Homo sapiens: one gene and its partners. The protein of the gene in region 4 interacts with the protein of the main gene of each other region in a pairwise test. Each region holds a gene or a part of one and is shown on either strand. Other genes may lie near its edges. The genes, in order: OPRM1, PGRMC2, MAPK8IP2, SLC39A13, CD40 and REL.

The links.
Region 1: the proteins of SLC39A13 (region 4) and OPRM1 interact in a two-hybrid assay, tested with the Homo sapiens proteins (one large-scale study listed by BioGRID and IntAct).
Region 2: the proteins of SLC39A13 (region 4) and PGRMC2 interact in binary tests that used the Homo sapiens proteins (3 or more experiments, as listed by UniProt).
Region 3: the proteins of SLC39A13 (region 4) and MAPK8IP2 interact in a two-hybrid assay, tested with the Homo sapiens proteins (one large-scale study listed by BioGRID and IntAct).
Region 5: the proteins of SLC39A13 (region 4) and CD40 interact in binary tests that used the Homo sapiens proteins (3 or more experiments, as listed by UniProt).
Region 6: the proteins of SLC39A13 (region 4) and REL interact in binary tests that used the Homo sapiens proteins (3 or more experiments, as listed by UniProt).

The regions. Positions count from the first base shown.
Region 1 is NC_000006.12:154,084,240-154,087,739, reverse strand, and holds part of OPRM1 (mu-type opioid receptor), read right to left. Parts: intron 1,234-3,500; exon of another isoform or gene 1-1,233. UniProt on the Homo sapiens protein: Receptor for endogenous opioids such as beta-endorphin and endomorphin. Receptor for natural and synthetic opioids including morphine, heroin, DAMGO, fentanyl, etorphine, buprenorphin and methadone.
Region 2 is NC_000004.12:128,274,314-128,277,813, forward strand, and holds part of PGRMC2 (membrane-associated progesterone receptor component 2), read right to left. Parts: intron 1-3,500. UniProt on the Homo sapiens protein: Required for the maintenance of uterine histoarchitecture and normal female reproductive lifespan. May serve as a universal non-classical progesterone receptor in the uterus.
Region 3 is NC_000022.11:50,603,793-50,607,292, reverse strand, and holds part of MAPK8IP2 (C-Jun-amino-terminal kinase-interacting protein 2), read right to left. Parts: intron 3,456-3,500; coding exon of another isoform or gene 3,453-3,455; coding exon 2,229-3,452; intron 1,926-2,228; coding exon 1,850-1,925; intron 1,732-1,849; coding exon 1,559-1,731; intron 1,469-1,558; coding exon 1,359-1,468; intron 636-1,358; coding exon 528-635; intron 373-527; coding exon 302-372; intron 1-301. UniProt on the Homo sapiens protein: The JNK-interacting protein (JIP) group of scaffold proteins selectively mediates JNK signaling by aggregating specific components of the MAPK cascade to form a functional JNK signaling module.
Region 4 is NC_000011.10:47,414,293-47,416,996, reverse strand, and holds the end of SLC39A13 (zinc transporter ZIP13 isoform a precursor), read right to left. Parts: coding exon of another isoform or gene 2,573-2,704; coding exon 2,522-2,572; intron 2,221-2,521; coding exon 2,088-2,220; intron 1,959-2,087; coding exon 1,838-1,958; intron 1,710-1,837; coding exon 1,634-1,709; 3' UTR 501-1,633; downstream 1-500. UniProt on the Homo sapiens protein: Functions as a zinc transporter transporting Zn(2+) from the Golgi apparatus to the cytosol and thus influences the zinc level at least in areas of the cytosol. May regulate beige adipocyte differentiation.
Region 5 is NC_000020.11:46,121,314-46,124,813, reverse strand, and holds part of CD40 (tumor necrosis factor receptor superfamily member 5 isoform 1 precursor), read right to left. Parts: intron 2,995-3,500; coding exon 2,916-2,994; intron 2,582-2,915; coding exon 2,456-2,581; intron 2,205-2,455; coding exon 2,058-2,204; intron 1,689-2,057; coding exon 1,595-1,688; intron 1-1,594.
Region 6 is NC_000002.12:60,926,574-60,929,342, forward strand, and holds part of REL (proto-oncogene c-Rel), read left to right. Parts: 3' UTR 1-2,769. UniProt on the Homo sapiens protein: Proto-oncogene that may play a role in differentiation and lymphopoiesis.

The DNA of each region.
Region 1 (3,500 bases), on a different chromosome or scaffold from region 4:
TGCTTTGGGATAGGCTGTATTACCAGTCCAGGGCGTGAAGACGTTTAGTGACCGGGGCCATGGTGAATGGCAAGGATGCTCTCATGTTCCAACCAGAGCCAGTGAGAGTTTATTTTGAGACTTATGGACAAAGAGTGTATTAGTTTTCCTGCAGGACCCACACCTGAGAAGACGCATGGTATGTAGTTGCTGGAGGAGCTTGTCTGAAAATGGACCTAATCCGGAGGATGTGGATTTGAGAGCGTGAGAGAGAACCCCACACCTGAAGCCAGGCCCTCCTTGGGCTTCTGATTTACACGGTGCCATCAATTCCTTTTAAATGTTAGCTTGTGTTTACTGTTTTTCCGTCACACGAGGTTGAGTCTAACTCATTCAGCCCAAGACAGCTGTTGGTTGGAGGCCCTTTGTTTAGGACTGAATTCAGTGTCCAGGAAAGTGTTTTGGTTTCAATAACATCAGGAAAGTGATTTCATAAATCTCCTCAGGGTCAATAGGACAGCTTTGTTACTGAAGCTTTAAAATTCTGATACCTGATCTGGTCTGCAATACTTGCAGAAGCTGCATTACTGCCAGAAAAGCTCCACATTTTCAGACTTGGGGGCTTTTTTTTGGACTTACTTTGGGAGTTTCACTTTCTTAATGGATTTTAAAGAAAAAGATAGAGCCATTTAACTTGAGGAGAGAAAATAATTTGCTTTTAGTTTGGACTTTAAATATGGCAAATATAAAAAGGATAATGTAGACAAATACTCCAAAGTACAAAAACCAACAAAAAAGCAAAATTAAAACTGTGGTTTTAAGATTTAGAATAATTGACCTTGGTGCTCAAGAAGTTGAAACATTTTTTATTTTTTTAATAAGAAGAAGTTTCTCCCCAAAAGAGAAAATAACTTTTGCTAGATTCACCGTTGGTTATAGACCTGCATGATCTAAAGACATGCTTCATTGCATTTGCCACTTTCCTACCCAGCAGACCTTACATTTCGTGGCTTATCTTTAATGGTGTTTTATGTTAAGTAATTGGTTTCTTTACAGTCAGTTTTCTGACTCATCATACTTCCAACCTTTCCTTCAGGCTTATTTTAGCACTAAGTATTTCCAATGTATGTTTATTTTAATTAAAAAAAATCATTTCCTTCTCCAGAGTGAGGTGTTTGTGGAAAAAAAAATTATGTCAGGGTTCAACATGGTGAAAGGAAACGTGGTTATGCATAGTTAATTAGCATGCTAGCCATTCCACAATGTGTATACATTTCAAAACATCATGTTGTATATGGTAAATATACATAATTTTATCATCAATTTACCAAAAAAAAGTGAATATTTATCTATAAAAATTCTTTCAACGGGCATTTTATAGGAATGATGCTGTTTAATTTTTCTCAATTTATTTAAAAAGTCTTCCTCTAAAGATAGCCAGCATTCTTACCCCAGTTACTCATGCTTTGGATCACAGCAACATATAAAAGGGGGCTCAACGATCTTCTAAATATGTGAAAGAAAATTATACAAAGCTAAAGGATTAAGAATTCCAATTGCCTCCAGCATATACCCAAAGGCTTTAATCTGAAGAGATGGTCTAATCAGAAAAGGAGTAATGTGGGCTGGGCCTGGTGGCTCAAGCCTATAATCCCAGCACTTTGGGAGGCTGAGGTGAATGGATCACTTGAGGGCAGGGGAAGGAGACCAGCCTGGTCAACCCTGTCTCTACTAAAATTAGAAAAATTAGCTGGGGGTGGTGGCAGGCACCTGCAATCCCAGCTACTTGGGAGGCTGAGGCAGGAGAATCGTACCACTGCATTCCAGCCTGAGCAACAGAGAGAGACACTGTCTCAAAAAAAAAAAAAAAAAGGGCAAGCTTTCATTCTGTTCTGATGTGGTGGCATGAATGTTGTCCCAGCAAAGTTCAATGAATGCTCAGAGTCACATCATGGGCCTTGCACAGGAGCATAGGACTCAGAGTTAGCAAACTAGCAAAAGAAATGACCTGCAGGAAGAATTATCTTTGCCATTCAGTTTACCTGAGTGGGTCCGAGTAGAACTCCTGGCTATTAAAACACAAGCCTTTTTCCTTACTCCATGCCTACTGCTTTGTACTGTGCTGTGAATGTGTTCTGTGGCAAAATGGGCAAAGAGAGACTCATCTGGACTCACAGGCCATCCTGATATTGACCCTTCCTATGGTAGCCACTGAACTCCATCTTCTGCTCGAAGCAGTGGCCCAAGCTATTTCTTTCTAATTATCCCATTAAAATTTTTGTAGTAGGTATTTCTTTAACTTTGGTCTAGATGATTAAATAGCTCTTTTGTTTTATGAATTCAAATGAATTTACAATGCTATTCGTTTTTGAAAAAAATTGTGTTCTTCTGAGAACCATCGATGTTTGACCCATTAGAGTGATTTTTATGGAACTTCCAGAAGTGTTGGGGAAAAGGCATTGTGAGGCCCATTTGCTGGCAGCTCACCTATTCTTTTATGTTGCATATATGACTTTTGTTTATAGATGTTCTTCCTTTCTTATGGTTATAAAATAATTCTTATTTATCTTTTGACCTATTCTTCACACATTTCTCCAACTATTACTACTTACAAAATGTGATTGCTTTTGACCTATTTGTGTTAAGTGAAGCCAGACTAAATAAATTACCTCTGTACACCTGATGGGTTTTGTAAACTTCTGTTTAGTTTTGTGGTTAATTATTTGAATTGTGGTGATCGTGTCTCAGTTCAGAAATAAAACTGATCAAGAGAGTGAGAGGAGGAAGGACACATTTTAGAATCCAGCATGTGTGTGTGTGTGTGTGTGTGTGTGTGTGTGTGTTTAATTCCACATCATGGCCTTCATATTGCTCAACTACCTTTTTCATAAGTTCACAATAGAGTCAATGGTGATGGACGGAAGAGTTTCATCTCTTTTGGGGCTAATTTTTCTGCCTTTTCATTTTTTTTACCAAGTAGTGTGAAGAAAGATACCTAATTCAGTAAGAATTCAACAAGCCCCTTTTATATGTTCAGCAATGTGCTTGGAAAGATATATTTCTTGCATTTGCCATGACTTTTATGTCCACTTACCCTCACATAGAAATTAACCTTTTTAGTCGAGAAAAAAATCCTCCCTAGAGTGTCATACTTTAATACTCATATTTAATTGGATCAATCCAATGAGATAAAGATACTTTCCTACATTTCAAGTAATTATTTAGGCAAAGAATATGGTCAAATGAGTATCTACCTGAGTTAATTGATCCATTATTATCCATCTATTCCATTCTGATATCCCAGGTGCGTTTTTACTTGTGAGTGTGTGTGTGTGTGTCTGTCTGTCTGTTGGGGGGGGAGGTTCTAAAATAAGAAAAAGCATAATCAAAACTAGTGATTATCCTCTCATTGGCATTAACATGGAGAAAGACTATATATTAGGTTGCTATTTTGTATTATATTCTCCACTAGCTTAGTGAAGGGGAGAATGGAGGACTTCTCACTTTGCTATAAAATGTTG
Region 2 (3,500 bases), on a different chromosome or scaffold from region 4:
CAGCCTGGCCAACATGGTGAAACCTCATCTCTACTAAAACTACAAAAATTAGCCGGCTGTGGTGGCGCACGCCTGTAATCCCAGCTACTCAGGAGTCTGAGGCAGGAGAATTGCTTGAATCCAGGAGACGGAGGTTGCAGTGAGTTGAGATCATGCCACTGCACTACGGCCTGGCCGAGAAAGCAAGACTCCTTCTCCAAAGAAAAAAAAAAAAAAAAAAAAAAGGTATTAACCAGTTATGTCTGTGTGTGTACATGCACATGTGCGTGCAAAATTCTACACACTTTGTGGCAATGGGTGTTTTCAGGAGGACAAGGAGAGAGACAGAGACAGAGAACTAGTGTGTTTAAAAATAAAAATTTCTAAGAAACAATGATAAAAAAAATCTATAAACATTATATTTACCCTTAATGCTGACTAGACCAATGCTTATAAACTTAAAAAAGCAAAAAGTGAAACATACAAAAGGAAAAATAAAACTAATAAAGGCCATAACAATCTACAAATGGAAAATTATAGGTTCAATTTTTAAAAGAATTTTCCAGCAACCTCACTTTTCTCTCTCAGAGTTTCCCAAAGTGGAAGGGACAGACTGCCTTCCCCATTTGGCAGATAAAAAACAGGAGCGGAGGCATTCAGTGTGATTTGCCTAAAATTACTGACAGAACTGAGAGTACTATTTCCACTTTCCTAAATCCTCCAGTGTACCTCAAGAAAACACATAGAAGACTCACAAGCCCAAAGATGGAGTAACGACCATGAAAACTGGAGCATTTTACTACTTACAAAATTTCAAGGGAATGAAAATTTTAGAATACTTATTAAATCAAAATGGAAGAGAATTAACAAAAAAGCTCTACTTAATAGCTTTTCTAAGCATTCTATTATAGTATTTATCTCCATGGCCTGCAAACATTAATCTACTTCAGGCACTTCAGAGTATAAGCCATAAAACACATTTAAATGATACAAAGGAGAGAAGATAAAATCATTATAAAAACAGCAATCAGAAAGCCCTCCATCTTTGAGTATATTAATATATACCAGTGCATTCTCTATTAATTTCTCTACCAACTTCCCTAAGAAAGCTTCAACACTGAATGAATAATAATAATAAAAAATTTCATAAAATATGCTCTTTCTGGGGTACTGGGGGTAGGGAATGATTGACTTGGTAAGAGTGAACTTGAGTCAACAGTTAATAATCCAAGCCAAATTCCAGACAAATGATGTTCTGTTGACTCTTGAATAGAAAAGAATAATTCAGTGATTAACATATTCCCCCACTCCCTAAACTATATTAAGCTGTCTTCTCCATATGTTTAGAATTTCCCTCAGGAAGCATTTAACTTCTGCAAAGGTCTTTTTAGTAATAATTTTCTATGCTCTTTCCTGTAAGACCATTAAAAAAATTTTTTTTGTTGTTTTTTGAGACAGGGTCTTACTCTGTCACCCAGGCTGGAGTACAGCGGCTCAATCATATTTCACTGTGGCCTCTACTTCCTGGGCTCAAGTAATCCTCCTGCCCTAACCTCCCAAATAGCTGGGACTAGAAGCATGGCCCACCAGGCCTGCATAATTTCTTTTATTTTTTGTAGAGACAAGGTCTCCCTATGTTGCCCAGCTGATCTTGAACTCCTGGCCTCAAGCAATCCTCCTGCCTTTGCCTCCCAAAGTGTTAGAATTACAGGCCTAAGCCACCATGCCCAGCCTTCTGTAAGGCCATTAAAGAATATAACATTAGGAACTAAAGTTGGAACTGGATGGGTTATTCTGAGGAAGGATTTGATGTCTAATAAAAGGAGATTTCCCTGCATTCATAATACAACCAGGAGCTTATCTGAAAAGTCAGCAATACCTTCCCATTCCGTTATCCCCTTACATAAAAAACCTAAATATTTACCAATTCTAATATTTGGTAAGTATACTTGGCTATTCATAATACTAAAACAATAGGGAGCTCCCCAAATAAAGCCAATTTGAAATGGTTTAAGTCTGTTGCATGGTATAATTTATTTATTTGTATTAGTATTTTTTTTTGAGACAGAGTCACACTCTGTGGTGTGATCTCAACTCACTGCAACCTCTGCCTCCTAGGTTTAAGTGATTCTCCTGCCTCACTCAGCCTCCCAAGTAGCTGGGATTATTGGGTGTGGCACCACGCCCAGCTAATTTTTATATTTTTGGTAGAGAGGGGGTTTCACCATATATGGTGGACAGGCTGGTCTTGAACTCCTGACCTCAGGTGATCCGCCTACCTCAACCTCCCACAGTGCTGGGATTACAGGCATGAGCCACTGTGCCCAGCCTAATTTATTTTTAAAAAGGCTAGTTTACATGATCTGGTTATTTTTTATTATTAAGGCTCATTTAGACACTAACAGTTCAGTAGTAACTAGAAGAATTAAATTCTGTTGCTTTATCAAATATTAAAATATAATGCTGATCCAAAAACAGCCTCCCAATTTTAAGCAAATTCGTGCTACAAAAAATGAACAGCATTATTCAGTCAAAGCAAATACTCTGAAATATACTTACATAACAAATATTCAAGGACATCATTTTAAAGATAAATTTTATTTCAAAGCTATTGTTAAATATACCAACAAGAGGCAGGCGGATCACGAGGTCAGGAGATCGTGACCATCCTGGCCAACGTGGTGAAACCCAGTATCTACTAAAAAATACAAAAAATTAGTCGGGCATGGTAGTGGGCACCTGTAGTCCCAGCTACTTGGGAGGCTGAGGCAGGAGAATGGCGTGAACCTGGGAGGCAGAGCTTGCAGTGAGCTGAGATCTCGCCACTGCACACCAGCCTAGGCGACAGAGCGAGACTCCATCTCAAAACAAACAAACAAACAAACAAACAAACAAACAAAACAAACCCAACATGAAGTACTATACTAGTCAGAATTCAGATTTCATTTAGTTTTCAGTGTCAATCCAACTTGTGGTCAAGATATTTTAAAGTTCAATAAACCTATTTGTTACCGTATCCTAAAACTGCTTACTTTAATACAATCAGTTAGAATGAGGTGACATATTCTTGAAACAGCAACAACATATGCTCATTGTAAAATGTTTTAAATATTAATTTAATAAACAGAAAATTCCAGGAGGAAGTAAATATGTAGTAACAGATAATTTTGTGATTATTAGGATGATTATATAGCTACCTTAGTGTTTCTAAAGGGATATTTTAATTATTCTCACAGTTTAAAAACCATATCTCTCAGAGATGAACTTTAATTAATTAAAGTTTATCAACAGTGCAGTTTTCAGGCCTGTTTTGACAATAATCTTTTGTGATTATAAATTGAGTAACTAATAACACTTAGTATTGGGTAATTTATTTCAAATAAGATTATAATCAGCCTATCAACAAATGAGGCAATATGTAAAAGTGATTAACTGAACTAATAAATTTTTTTATGCTTAGGTCCAGTAAGTCCCAAGACTTTTAGAGAGAATGCAGTATGGTAAAACTGAAATAATACCTC
Region 3 (3,500 bases), on a different chromosome or scaffold from region 4:
CTGGCCATCCTGAGCCCCAGGCCCACTCAGGCGTCCTCTGCACCCACACAGGCTTCTCACATCCTTCGCCCGTGTGCCTCTCTCCACCCAGACTGGATGCAAGCCTGTCTGACCCACGCCTCCTGAGTCCAGCTCAGAGCAGGCGCCACTGCAGGCTCAGCTCACAGAGCTAAGTGGGTGCAGGTGGAGCTCTCAGGGCTGGGCACGGGCAGCCCTCAGGGTCTGTGGGGACTCAGGGGGCGGTTGGACTCTCAGGGTTTGTGGGGGCGGTTGGGGGACTCGGGGACGGTCAGACTCTCACCAGCTGTTGCGGGGATGGCAGCCGCAGAAGGAGATGTTCTTCATCTGGAAGAAATGGCTGCAGCGCTGGAACTAGAGCAGAGGTGGGCAGAAGTCCCTGTGTCAAAGGAGGCCTGGCGCCACCCCTGCCTCCCACCTACTGGACACCCCTGCCAGCCTGGCCCCGTCGGACTCCGTGGCCTAACCCTATCCCCCAGTCCCCGGTCCCCAGTCCCCCACACTCCCACCTCGGGCCCTCCTCCGCTCAGACTCAGCTTGACCCCCCGAAGAGAGATCTCGAGGTCACAGGAGGCAGGAGGGCGCAGGTGGACGGTCAGTTTCCGGGCAGTGGCAATCTACAGAAGAAGTTGGGGGAGAAGAGGGTCTTGAGGAGCCCACAAGGGCCTTTCTTTCCCCTTGGTGGGACTACGCCTCTGCTCCTTTTAGCTTATGTTTGAGGACACACATGCTGAGGACCCTGAGATGCAATTCTGGAAGACATAAGGGGTGTGGCCTTGGCCACTCCTCAGGCTCAGGAGGAGCAATCGCCTCTCTGCAGTCAGCTTGCTTCATCTTCCTTCTGCTCCTCCAGGCAGGCTGCTGCGCTTGGCTCAGGAGCCAGGAACAGAGACCTCACCCGCCCTGGGCTGCTCTGCCCTGCTCCCTACTGCCCCCCAGCCTCAGCCTCAGTACTGGTGCCTGGGCAGGTGCTCACTAAACGTCCACTGAGTGAGTGGATGAGTAGAGGGCTCCCAGGGAAGGGGCTGTGAGGGCTGGTCTTGATTCCAGATGGGAAGAGGAAGGGCTGATGGCAGTCGGGGCCACCTGGAAGATCTGTGGCCCAGAGACCCAGAGGTGATGAGGGACAGCTGCTGTGCTCTGCCCTAGACTCACCTGCTCAGGCCTCTGAACCAGGGCCTGGGGTACCCACCCCGAGCTCCCCCTGCAGCATCCCCCAGACCCTCCCTGGAGGAAATCAGACCTCAGACCTTGGAGCCTCAAGCCCTGTGCCAGCCTGCAGTGCTGGTGTGGCCGCCAAGCGGACCCTCAGCCTGCACTTGCCCGGCCTCCACACTGACCTTCTGCATGGCTGCACACAGGATGCCGTTGCCCTGGTGGCAGGGCACCTCCACGGAGCCCAGGAACTGCACGTCAAAGCGCTCCACCCAGCAGGGGCTCCGCTTACTCCCTGGGGAGCGGGGCACAGAGGGCCCAGGTCAGGCAGGGGCACAGGGGAGGATCTGGGGTGAAAAGCCTCCCCTCGGGGTTGGGACCTCACCCAGCAGGTCCTTGGCAGGGCCGGGCACCGCATGGGCGTAGAAGGCAGGAAACACACCGCGCTCCCCCGTGCGCATGTTGAAGCCACGGAACCAGAAGTCGTCCTCCTCGGCCTCCACCAACACAGGGTCATCCACATCCAGCTCCAGCTCGTCTGGATGCCGCGGGATGAACCTGCCGTTGGGGGAGAGGTCACTGGGGAGGGGGGCGGGATTGACGGTCGTGTCCACTGGCGTTCCGTGATGGCAGGGACTGAGGCTGGGGCCACCGCCAGCAAGGAGGGAGGCCGTACCTGAACACAGCCCGGTGAGTCTGCTCTCGCTCCTCGCCGTTGACCAGACAGGAGAAAAGGCCAAAGGACTCGGTGCCTGGGAGACCCGGCAGGACAGAGGCGGGGGAGACAGGGAGACAGAGTCAGAGTAGTGCTTAGAGGCCTGGCCTTGGGCAGAGGCCAAGTCCCCTCCACAGTCCGGTGTAGGTGTCCTACGAGCGGGAAGGAGCTGAGGCAGAGCAGGCCACCTCATGCCATGTCCTGGGTGGGAGAGGGCACCCAGCCCTGACCACAGCCAGACCCTCAGGTGGCCCTGGGCACTGTGGGGGACCCTGGGACTGGGGCCAGGGAGTCTGCACCTTCCTCTGGGCCACCCCCCTTTTCCCCACCTCTCACTCACTGGAGGACCGAGATGTGCTGTTGACGAAGACATTGAGGAACTTCTTGGAGAAAGTGAGGTCAGGGCTGTCCGGCGAGGTGTCCCCCGAGACCTGACCGCCGCCTAGCAGCGCCGCGCCCGCCTCCTCCTCGCTGGCCTCCCCGCCGCTGTCCTCTTCGCTGTCGTGGCCCAGCCCAGCACAGCGCCGCAGGCTCACCAGCTCCAGCTGCGTGTGCTCATCCACCACCAGCGTGTACTTGACCGCGTCGTACACCAGCGACGCGTCCCGCGGCGCCGAGGGGCCCGTGCCCCTGCCCCCGGGGGACCCCGCACTGTCCTCGGCATCCTCCTCTTCCTCGTCGTCCTCTTCGTCCTCCTCCTCGGAGCAGGCGGCGGAGCAGGCTCGTCCCGGGCGGGCGGCGCGGCCGGGCGCGGCCCACAGCGGCGTGATGGTGTCACGCGTGGGGTTGCTGAGGAATAGGCAGGGCCCGGGCTGCGCGGGGCCGGGTCGAGGCGCGGCGGGCGCGGGCGGCGGCGGCGCGCACAGCGTCTCCATGTCCACCAGCTCCACGCCGCCGGGCCCCGCGGCCGCCTCGGGGTCCTGGGAGTCCTGGGCGGCCCCGCCGGCCGGCGACACGGGCTCCCCGGGCGGGCGCGGCGCAGGAGACAGGCACTGGCCGGGGCAGCGGATGGGCGAGGAGCCCTCGGAGATCATGCGGCTCACCAGGTTGCTGAGCAGCCAGGGCGAGTCCGCGTCCTCGCTGAGGTCCGGCTCCGACTCCGACCCCGACTCGTACTCGCTGTTGGTGTCGTCGGGGCCCACGGGCAGGAAGGCGGGGCGGCGCGGGGGTTCGCGCGGGGGCTCCGGCTCCGAGGCGGGCGACGAGGCCTCCTCGATGGAGTTGGTGAGGTGCGAGGAGCGGCCGCTGCTGCTGCTTCCGCCATCGCTGCTCAGCTCCAGCTCCGTCTCCGAGATGGACGAGATCATGCGCCCCAGGCGCGCGCCGCCCGCGTCCTCCGAGTCGGAGCCGGGCGAGGACAGCTCCTGGCTGCTGCGACGTCCCCCGCGGCCGCCGCTCGAGCGGCTTCTCAGGTCAGCCTCGATGCCGGGATCTGAGGAGGGCGAAGTCCCCCCTGGCGCAGGGGGTTCCGCAGGCCGGTTCCCTTCGCAGTCGCAACCCGGGCGCACTGGCGACTGCGCCCCGCCGGGCCCGGTGTCCGTGGCAGGGAGGGGGCCCGGGAGCTCTGCTGGGCAGGGAGGTGGGGTCACCCTCTCTGCACCACCCAGGCCTC
Region 4 (2,704 bases):
CGGTGGCTCACACCTGTAAGCCCAGCACTTTGGGAGGCTGAGGCGGGCAGATCACAAGGTCAGGAGTTCAAGACCAGCCTGGCCAATATGGCAAAACCCTATCTCTACTTTTAAAAAAAAGCCAGGCGTGGTGGCACACACCTGTAAATCCCAGCTACTTGGGAGGTTGAGGCAGGAGAATTGCTTGAACCCAGGAGGCGGAGGTTGCAGTGAGCCAAGACCGCACCACTGCACTCCAGTGTGGGTGACAGAGTGAGACTCTGTCTCAAAAAAAAAAAAAAGATAAGGACAGCGTCCTGGAGTTTGTGGTGGTGAGGGGCTAAAATGGCATACGGCCAGGCTCATATAGGTGCTCAGTCATTGGAATAAAAAGTTAAGCCAGGAAGACATGGAACGTTCAGAGATGCACTGGGGTGACAGTTCAGAGACAAGGGCCTGGCAGTGGCAGTAAGGAAGGCCCTGCCTGGCCATGGAAGGCCGTGCAGAACCAAGGCAGCCAGTATGTGGATAATATTTATTTGTATCTTATCTATAGAACAAATATTTACAGATACAAACGGAATCACAGCAAAGTTGCTATAAAACCATCCAGACCTCTCGATGGCCACTTCTGAAAACATCCACGGTGAAGGGCAGGGCCAGGCCTGGCTGTGGAGTGGGCCAGCTGAGTACCTGGGCGTCAGCCAAGGGAAATGGTTGGGGATTATGGCTTCAGCACTCTGCCGGAGCACATTCCTGAGCGCTGACAACGTGGAGCCCTCACCGCCCCCACCTACCCCAACCTCAATGGGGAAGGAAAGGGGCCTGAGCTGGGCAGGGCTGCCCGGGCTCACTATGTGCCTGCTCCAGGAGTCCCTGGCCCCTGTGCTGGCAGGAGCATCCCTGAGCTGGACCGGGAGGCCTCTCTGGCCTGGGGCTGCTCCCTGCCCGGCAGGCTGCTGTTTGGCAGCTGGAGGTGGCAAGAGCTGCTGGTGCTGCCAGGGCGTGTTGGCCAGGAATGAGCTCCCAGGGCAGCCCTGAGGAAAGGGTCTTAGGAAGCGCCTCCCAGCTCACTACTAGGAGCTGGGGACTGTCAGTGCTGAGTGGGGCTGGGGTACAGGAGCACCTGCCTCTCCTTTCTTTGGCTTAGAAGTGGGGAAGGAAGGGCCAGGAAAAGGGACCAAAGCCGCCCCAGCCTTGGCCCCTAGGCCGCCTGGGGACTGTGTGTGTGCTGAGGGGGCAGTGGGAGGTGGGCAGCTCTGGAGTTCCCTGCACCCTGGATCCTTGGGCTGCTCTCACTCCCGGGGTCCCAGCAGGGCAAGGCCTCTGCTTGGGACCAGTGCTGCTCTTCCTCGCTGCTTACTCCGGGAGGTGAAGGTGACAGGGCGGCAAGGAGAGGTAACCACAGCATGGCTGGGGACAGGCGCTACACTGGGCCCCGGACCCAGCACAGGGATCACAGTGTCGGTCTCGCGCACACACCTCTGGCCACATGTGCACACCACATACATCCACACGCACCTCCCTCCTGTCTGGCGGGAGGCTCATTCTCTCTCGCAGCCACTCGCCCTCTCTGCCTCTCACATATGCGGTCACAGAGTGAATCCGAGCATCTTATTGCTGCAGGGGGCAGGGGCGTCGGCATCAGGGAAAGTTAATCCACGAAGAGCGAGAACAGCACCATTACCACGATGCCCGCACAGAGCAGAAGCAGCTGCTGCAGGGAGCGCCTGTGGGGAGGGAACGGCTCACGGTGGAGGCATGGGCAGGGGGAGCAGGCAGCGGCCAGGAGCCCTTCCCTCCTGAGCCCCTAAGGGCCCTGTGAGTGGCAGTCCTCTTCCTCCAACAGGTCACTCACCACGGGTCCTCTTCTTCCAAGAGGTCAGGGAGCACGTTCACCAAGGCGATGTAGAGAAAGCCGCCAGAGGTGAAGGGCAGGACCCAGGCTGCCGTCTCCTCTGCAGCGGGAGAACACCCAACTGGGTACCCAAGGCACTGTGTGTGCTCCCCACCTCCCGGGCCTGGGGACCAGCAGTGCGGTAGCCACACCCTTTGGCTGGTGCCCCTCTGCTGATGCCACCCGCCACAACCACCCGCCACGCCCGTACCTACTCCCTTGGGGGACTGGGTACAGATGGCGAAGCCAGCGCCCAGTAGGCCCCCCAGCGCTGTTGAGAGTTGCAGCTTGGCTGCGCTCCATCGGTCAAAGCCGGCCCGGAGCAGGATGGCAAAGTCGCCCACCTGAAGGGAGGTCCAGAGGTTCACCCTGCGCCCCAGCGGGGCCTGATGCCCTGAGTGCTCAGGTACGATATACACACTGAGCCCCCTGCCCTTCCCCACCCTTCCCCTGGGACCCCCATCCTGAGTATGGCAGAGATGGCAGCTGCAGGCTGCTGGGGTGAGGAGCTCCAGCCCTCACAGCCCAGCCCCAGAGTGCCATGCTGGACAGGCCCAGCCCCACACCCTCCTGAGCTCCACACCCATGCTGATCATGGGCACTGTGGGGGCCTGGGCCCCTGGGGGCTGCCCTACAAGCGCTCACCTCATGGGGGATCTCATGCAGGAGGATGGCCATGGTTGTCAGGAGCCCGATCTGCAGGGAGGGGAGCCGTGGCTGCGGGGTCTGTGTTGAGGGCTGAGCACCCCACTCGCCCACTCATTCCACAGAGGTTTACTCTGCTCTGAGCTGGCTCTGGGTGGGCACTGTGTTGGCCACTGGAAATAC
Region 5 (3,500 bases), on a different chromosome or scaffold from region 4:
GCCTGGGCGACAGAGTGAGACTCTGTCTCAAAAAAAAAAAAAAAAAAAAAAAAAAAAAAAAACTATACCAGTGGTGCCTCCAGTTATCAGTCAACATTTATCAGTAAAAATTTAAGCACCTACCATGCGTCAGGTACTGTTCCAGGTATAGGGGATGTATCAATGGAAGAAAAAAAAAAGGCCAAGTTTCTACATTTAAGGAATTTTCAATCTATTAGGGAAAGGCAGACAGTTAACAAATAAAATGTATACTCCTATTTGTGCAAAAGTAAAAGGAGGGAAATTTTGTGTGTGTTTGTGTGTGTGTGTGTGTGTGTTGGTTTGTTTATATGTAGAATCTCTGGAAGGATATGCAAGGAACAATGGCTCCCTCCAGAAAGAACTGGGAGCCTAAGGGGCAGGGATGGGAGAAAGACATCACTTTGGCTCTTTTGTGCCTTCTGTCCCATGTGCCTATCTTGCCCATTTTTAAAAATCAAATGCAAAAAGTTAATGGGGCAGGTGTTTGTTTTTTGAGACAGAATGTCGCTCTGTTGCCCAGGCTGGAGTGCAGTGGCGCTATCTTGGCTCACTGCAAACTCCACCTTCCGGGTTCAAGTGATTCTCCTGCCTCAGCCTCCCGAGGAGCTGGGATTACAGGCGCCCACCACCACACCCAGCTAATTTTTTGGTATTTTTAGTAGAGATGGGTTTTTACCATGTTGTGCTGGCTGGTCTTGAACTCCTGACCTCAAGTGATCCACCCGCCTTGGCATCCAAAGTGCTGAGATTACAGGCAAGAGCCACCGCGCCTGGCCTGGGGCCCATGTTTAAGGTATTCCAGGCAGATGAGTTTGATGGAAGAGAATGAACAGTGTGTTCAGAGGATTGCAAGTAGCATGAAGCTATGCGATGCAGGAAAGAGAGCAGGAAATGCAACAGGAAGGTTGGGTGCCATGCTAAGGAGTCTTAGTTCCAACAGAGAGACAGGAAGCATCTCAAATAGGAGAGTGTCATGATTTGAAAGAAACTGTCGAACGCTCATGTTGGCAAGAGGATGGAGACAGAACCAGCAGGAGGGGAGAGACAGAGGCAGGGAGGCCAGGAGGCAGAAAAGGCATCACCCAGACCACAGTGATGAGGCCCAAACTAAAGTGACAACAGTGGAGACAGTAAGTTCCCAAAACACGTAGACAGCCAGTGGCAGGACCTGGTGTGGGTTTGGAGTTGGAGGTAAGAGAGGGAGGCCCTCAGGGTGAGCACCCAGAGCCCAGAAAGCCCTAGAAAGCCAGGTAAGGTGAAAGCAAGACGAGGAAAACTGAGGAGAAGCAGGAGGGGCAGAAGGAAAGCTAAAATAAGTGTCCCAATACCCCCAAGATAGGAGGCTCTCATGAAGCGAGAGATCAACAGTGTCTATTACCTCAAAGAGACAGCAGGCAAAAAAAATGTGGAAATGTGCCTGTCTGGTTGGCCATGAGGCCACTCTGCAGATGCTTCACAAGTACATGAGTGTGTGTGGACCTCTGGGAGCAGGGACAGGACAGGTGGCTGGAGAGAATGGAGGCAGCTCCATGCCACTCTTAGAGCAGGAAACACAAGGGATGAGTGCTTATACCTTGTCCAAGGGTGACATTTTTCGAAAGCAGATGACACATTGGAGAAGAAGCCGACTGGGCAGGGCTCGCAGATGGTATCAGAAACCCCTGTAGCTGGGAGTGGGTGGGGAGGGGGACATTAACCATCACAGTGGACCACCTGTCCGGCTCACAAGGCAGCCAGTGGCCAGGCAGGACGGGAAGAGCTCCTGCCTTGAGCACTCTTCCCCCGATGTGGTACTGCCCCCGACAGCTGCAGTCCCCAGGAGGACTTCTCCCATTGCCCTTCAAAGGCAGATCCCCATGGCAGAAGGCAGAATGAACAAGGTCCCGTCTGCAGCTCACTCCAGTGGGGATACCGACATAGGTTGGAGCCTCTGCTTCCTCTGCCTCTGGGGCTAAGTGCCCACTGCCCAGCCCCTCACCTTGGGCCCTAAGCTCCTCTGTCCCCCTCCAAAACTGATTCCCAGATGAGCCACTTACCAATCTGCTTGACCCCAAAGCCGGGCGAGCATGAGCGGTGCAGGACACAGCTCTCACAGGCCTCACTCGTACAGTGCCAGCCTTCTTCACAGGTGCAGATGGTGTCTGTTTCTGAGGTGCCCTTCTGCTGGACCCGAAGCCCTAGGTCTGAGAAGAGAAGGGCAGGAAGGATGGGAACCCCCTGCTGGGCCATGCTCTGAGCCTCACTCCCCACATTGCCTGCTCTTTCTTCCTCAGACCCTCTTCCAAGTAGAGATGGCAATCAAATCATTTAATGATCAGTACAGCCCGGACTCCAACCAATCAGAGCAGACCCTGGCTACATAAAATTAGAATGGCTGCATTGTCGGGAATATCAGCCCGGTTCCCAAGCGTCCCTTTCCCAACAGCGCACGCACTGGGGTCGCAGTATTTGTGCTGGTGGCAGTGTGTCTCTCTGTTCCAGGTGTCTAGGAATTCGCTTTCACCGCAAGGAAGGCATTCCGTTTCAGTGAACTCTGTGCAGTCACTCACCAGTTTCTGTCCTGGAAAACATCAGGAAATGAGGGAGGGCTCTGGCCAACTCCATGAGTCAGACACTAACCACACAATGATCAGGCCAGGCTTTAGGGTAGGGGATTCAAAGATGAAAGTCTTGGATCCTTCATAATCAGGCGAGGAAGATGGAGAAGCTGGGATCCCTAGTTCAGGGTAGACAGAGTTTTACCTGGTAGAGAGGGAACCAGAACATTCTGACAGTGAAGCAGGGCTGGGAAATGGGTCGTTTCAGATTTGAGTTTACAGTTAACATATGGGGTCTGCGTCTGCCACCAAAGCAAAGGGGGACTCCATGATGGGGCTAGAGGGTTGGCATCTCACCTGGCTGGCACAAAGAACAGCACTGACTGTTTATTAGGTACTGTTTTTCTCTGCATGCAGTGGGTGGTTCTGGATGGACCTAAAAACAGAATTGTGCAATTTGAAGGGATCTTGAAATCTCCGTTGCAACTTCTTCAGCAGAAAGGTAAAAGTCATCCAGGACAGAGGCTGCAAACTGAAGTGCAAGTCAAAACAGAAAGTGGAACCTGCATGATATTTGGCATGTTTGTTTTCAAGTAAATTGTCAACTGAGCTGATTATAATCGCACCCAGAGAATCATTCTGGTATTTTTACAAAGCAATGGTACTGTAAACTCACAATATTCTCTGAACAGAACAGAATTCCTTGGGGCTTGATGCCTGAGTCATTCCTCTTCCCAAAGATCCCATAGGATATGGGGACTCCAGCAGCTCCCCTGGAGTCCTGAAGCTGGCTGACTTCAGCTGGTCCCAGTGCTGTTTGGGGCTATGTTTAGCACTTGGCCTCTTCCTCCTATTCTTCTGCTTCCCTTCCTGCTCCTTTCCAAAGCCCATCATGTTTTCTTCCTCCAACTCCTCATCATCTGTTCATCCAGCCCTTCCCTC
Region 6 (2,769 bases), on a different chromosome or scaffold from region 4:
TGCTATTTCCCCCTACCCGCCCTCCGATGATCTTATCAGAGCCCACAGGTTCAGTTTTCTTTCATGCTACCTGAATGTCCTGATAAACTGGCTCGCTCTCTTCTTTACCTTCCATAATGGCATTACCATTTACCACGCCACCCAAGATACTTACTAGGAACCTCAAAGTATTGTATTCTTTTTCTCCATCACACTCATACTTAATCATCAAGTCCTTTTGAGCTTGTCTCCTCTTGAATATGTCCCTTCTTAATTCCTGCTGCCTTCTTAGTAAAGGCCTTCATTCTTTTTTCCCTAGTAATAATCTTTTCCATATGTTCCAGTTAAAATACCATGTTCTCCCTATTCCTTATTACATAGCTAGCATTCCTTGAAAAAAAACAATTCTCTCAGGCCTCCATACCTTTAGCATGTTACCCACTCTGCCTCTGCTCTTCTGGAACTAGAACACTCATCCTTGAAGGCTGGGCTTCTGTATGAAGGTTGGTCCTGCCTCCTTACTTGAGGTGAAGCTTTGTACATGCCTGTATTACGGACATCCTCTTATTTAAGTGTTTGTCTCTTTCGTCATTGGGACTCCAGCACCCAGCATAGTCCCTAGTATACTAGTTGGTGCTGAATAAATAGTAGCTATTATTAGAAAAGGAAGGGTGAAATTGACATGGGAGTTAGTAAAATGTATATGGAAATGATTTTTAAAGGGAAAGGTAATGATTTTCTGGCAGGAAAAGCAGCAATGACAAGATTACTTAAGTCTTGTGAAATAACACTTCTCTTCCTTGACCTGCTGCTTCCCTTTTTTACCACACACACACGCACACATACCACAGCCCTTTGAGACTGAAAGCAGCTCTATTGAGAATAGTAGTGTCAACTGTATTATGTAGAAATTCTAAAGTTTTTGGGATTATTTCATAGCCCTGACCTTGCTACTTCTCTCCACTTTATGTGGCAGGTTTAATCTCAGGTCTCCCTCATACACTTCTCAGCCTCAGCACCTAACCCTCACACAACACTCCAGTATTGATGCAGTCAATCTTGTATAACATTTTTTGAATGTCCAATGTGCAAAGCACGATGTTGGAAATTATACAGAGGTGAATAAGACAAAAACTCTTGCTCTCAAAGATGTCAGTCTTTTTCTTTGCAAGGATAACACATGTAGAGTAAAATGCATAAAGGGGACTAATTTTAAATGTACAGCTTAATTAATTTTTATGTATGTTAACACCCATGTCACCACCATGTTTAGGACATTTCCAGCACCCCTGAAATTTCCTTCATGCCCCTTCCCAGTCTGTACCTACACCTCTAAATCTATTTTCAATCTTAATGGCCTTTTAAATAACTGGGCTTCTCACAACCATAGTGAACAGAAACAGCTGGGTTGTCAACGTCTAACCTAATACTTCAGGAAAACTCATGATGGTTTCCATGTTAAGAGAGACATGGAGCAGGGCACTGGCATGGTGGATGGATCACGCCTGTAATCCCAGCACTTTGGGAGGCCGAGGTAGGGGGATTGCTTGAGCCCAGGAGTTCAAGACTAGCCTGGGTAATATAAGGAAAACCTGTCTCTGCAAAAAAAAAAAAAAAAAGAGGATACAACCAAATGGAAGAACATTCCATGCTCATGGGTAGGAAGAATCAATATCGTGAAAATGGCCATACTGCCCAAGGTAATTTACAGATTCAGTGCCATCCCCATCAAGCTACCAATGCCTTTCTTCACAGAATTGGAAAAAACTACTTTAAAGTTCATATGGAACCAAAAAAGAGCCCATATCGCCAAGTCAATCCTAAGCCAAAAGAACAAAGCTGGAGGCATCACACTACCTGACTTCAAACTATACTACAAGGCTACAGTAACCAAAACAGCATGGTACTGGTACCAAAACAGAGATATAGATCACTGGAACAGAACAGAGCCCTCAGAAATAACGCCGCATATCTACAACTATCTGATCTTTGACAAACCTGAGAAAAACAAGCAATGGGGAAAGGATTCCCTATTTAATAAATGGTGCTGGGAAAACTGGCTAGCCATATGTAGAAAGCTGAAACTGGATCCCTTCCTTACACCTTATACAAAAATCAATTCAAGATGGATTAAAGACTTAAACGTTAGACCTAAAACCATAAAAACCCTAGAAGAAAACCTAGGCATTACCATTCAGGACATAGGCATGGGCAAGGACTTCATGTCTAAAACACCAAAAGCAATGGCAACAAAAGCCAAAATTGACAAATGGGATCTAATTAAACTAAAGAGCTGCTGCACAGCAAAAGAAACTACCATCAGAGTGAACAGGCAACCTACAAAATGGGAGAAAATTTTCGCAACCTACTTATCTGACAAAGGGCTAATATCCAGAATCTACAATGAACTCAAACAAATTTACAAGAAAAAAACAACCCCATCAAAAAGTGGGCGAAGGACATGAACAGACACTTCTCAAAAGAAGACATTTATGCAGCCAAAAAACACATGAAAAAATGCTCATCATGACTGGCCATCAGAGAAATGCAAATCAAAACCACAATGAGATACCATCTCACACCAGTTAGAATGGCAATCATTAAAAAGTCAGGAGACAACAGGTGCTGGAGAGGATGTGGAGAAATAGGAACACTTTTACACTGTTGGTGGGACTGTAAACTAGTTCAACCATTGTGGAAGTCAGTGTGGCGATTCCTCAGGGATGTAGAACTGGAAATACCGTTTGACCCAGCCATCCCATTACTGGGTATATACCCAAAGGACTATAA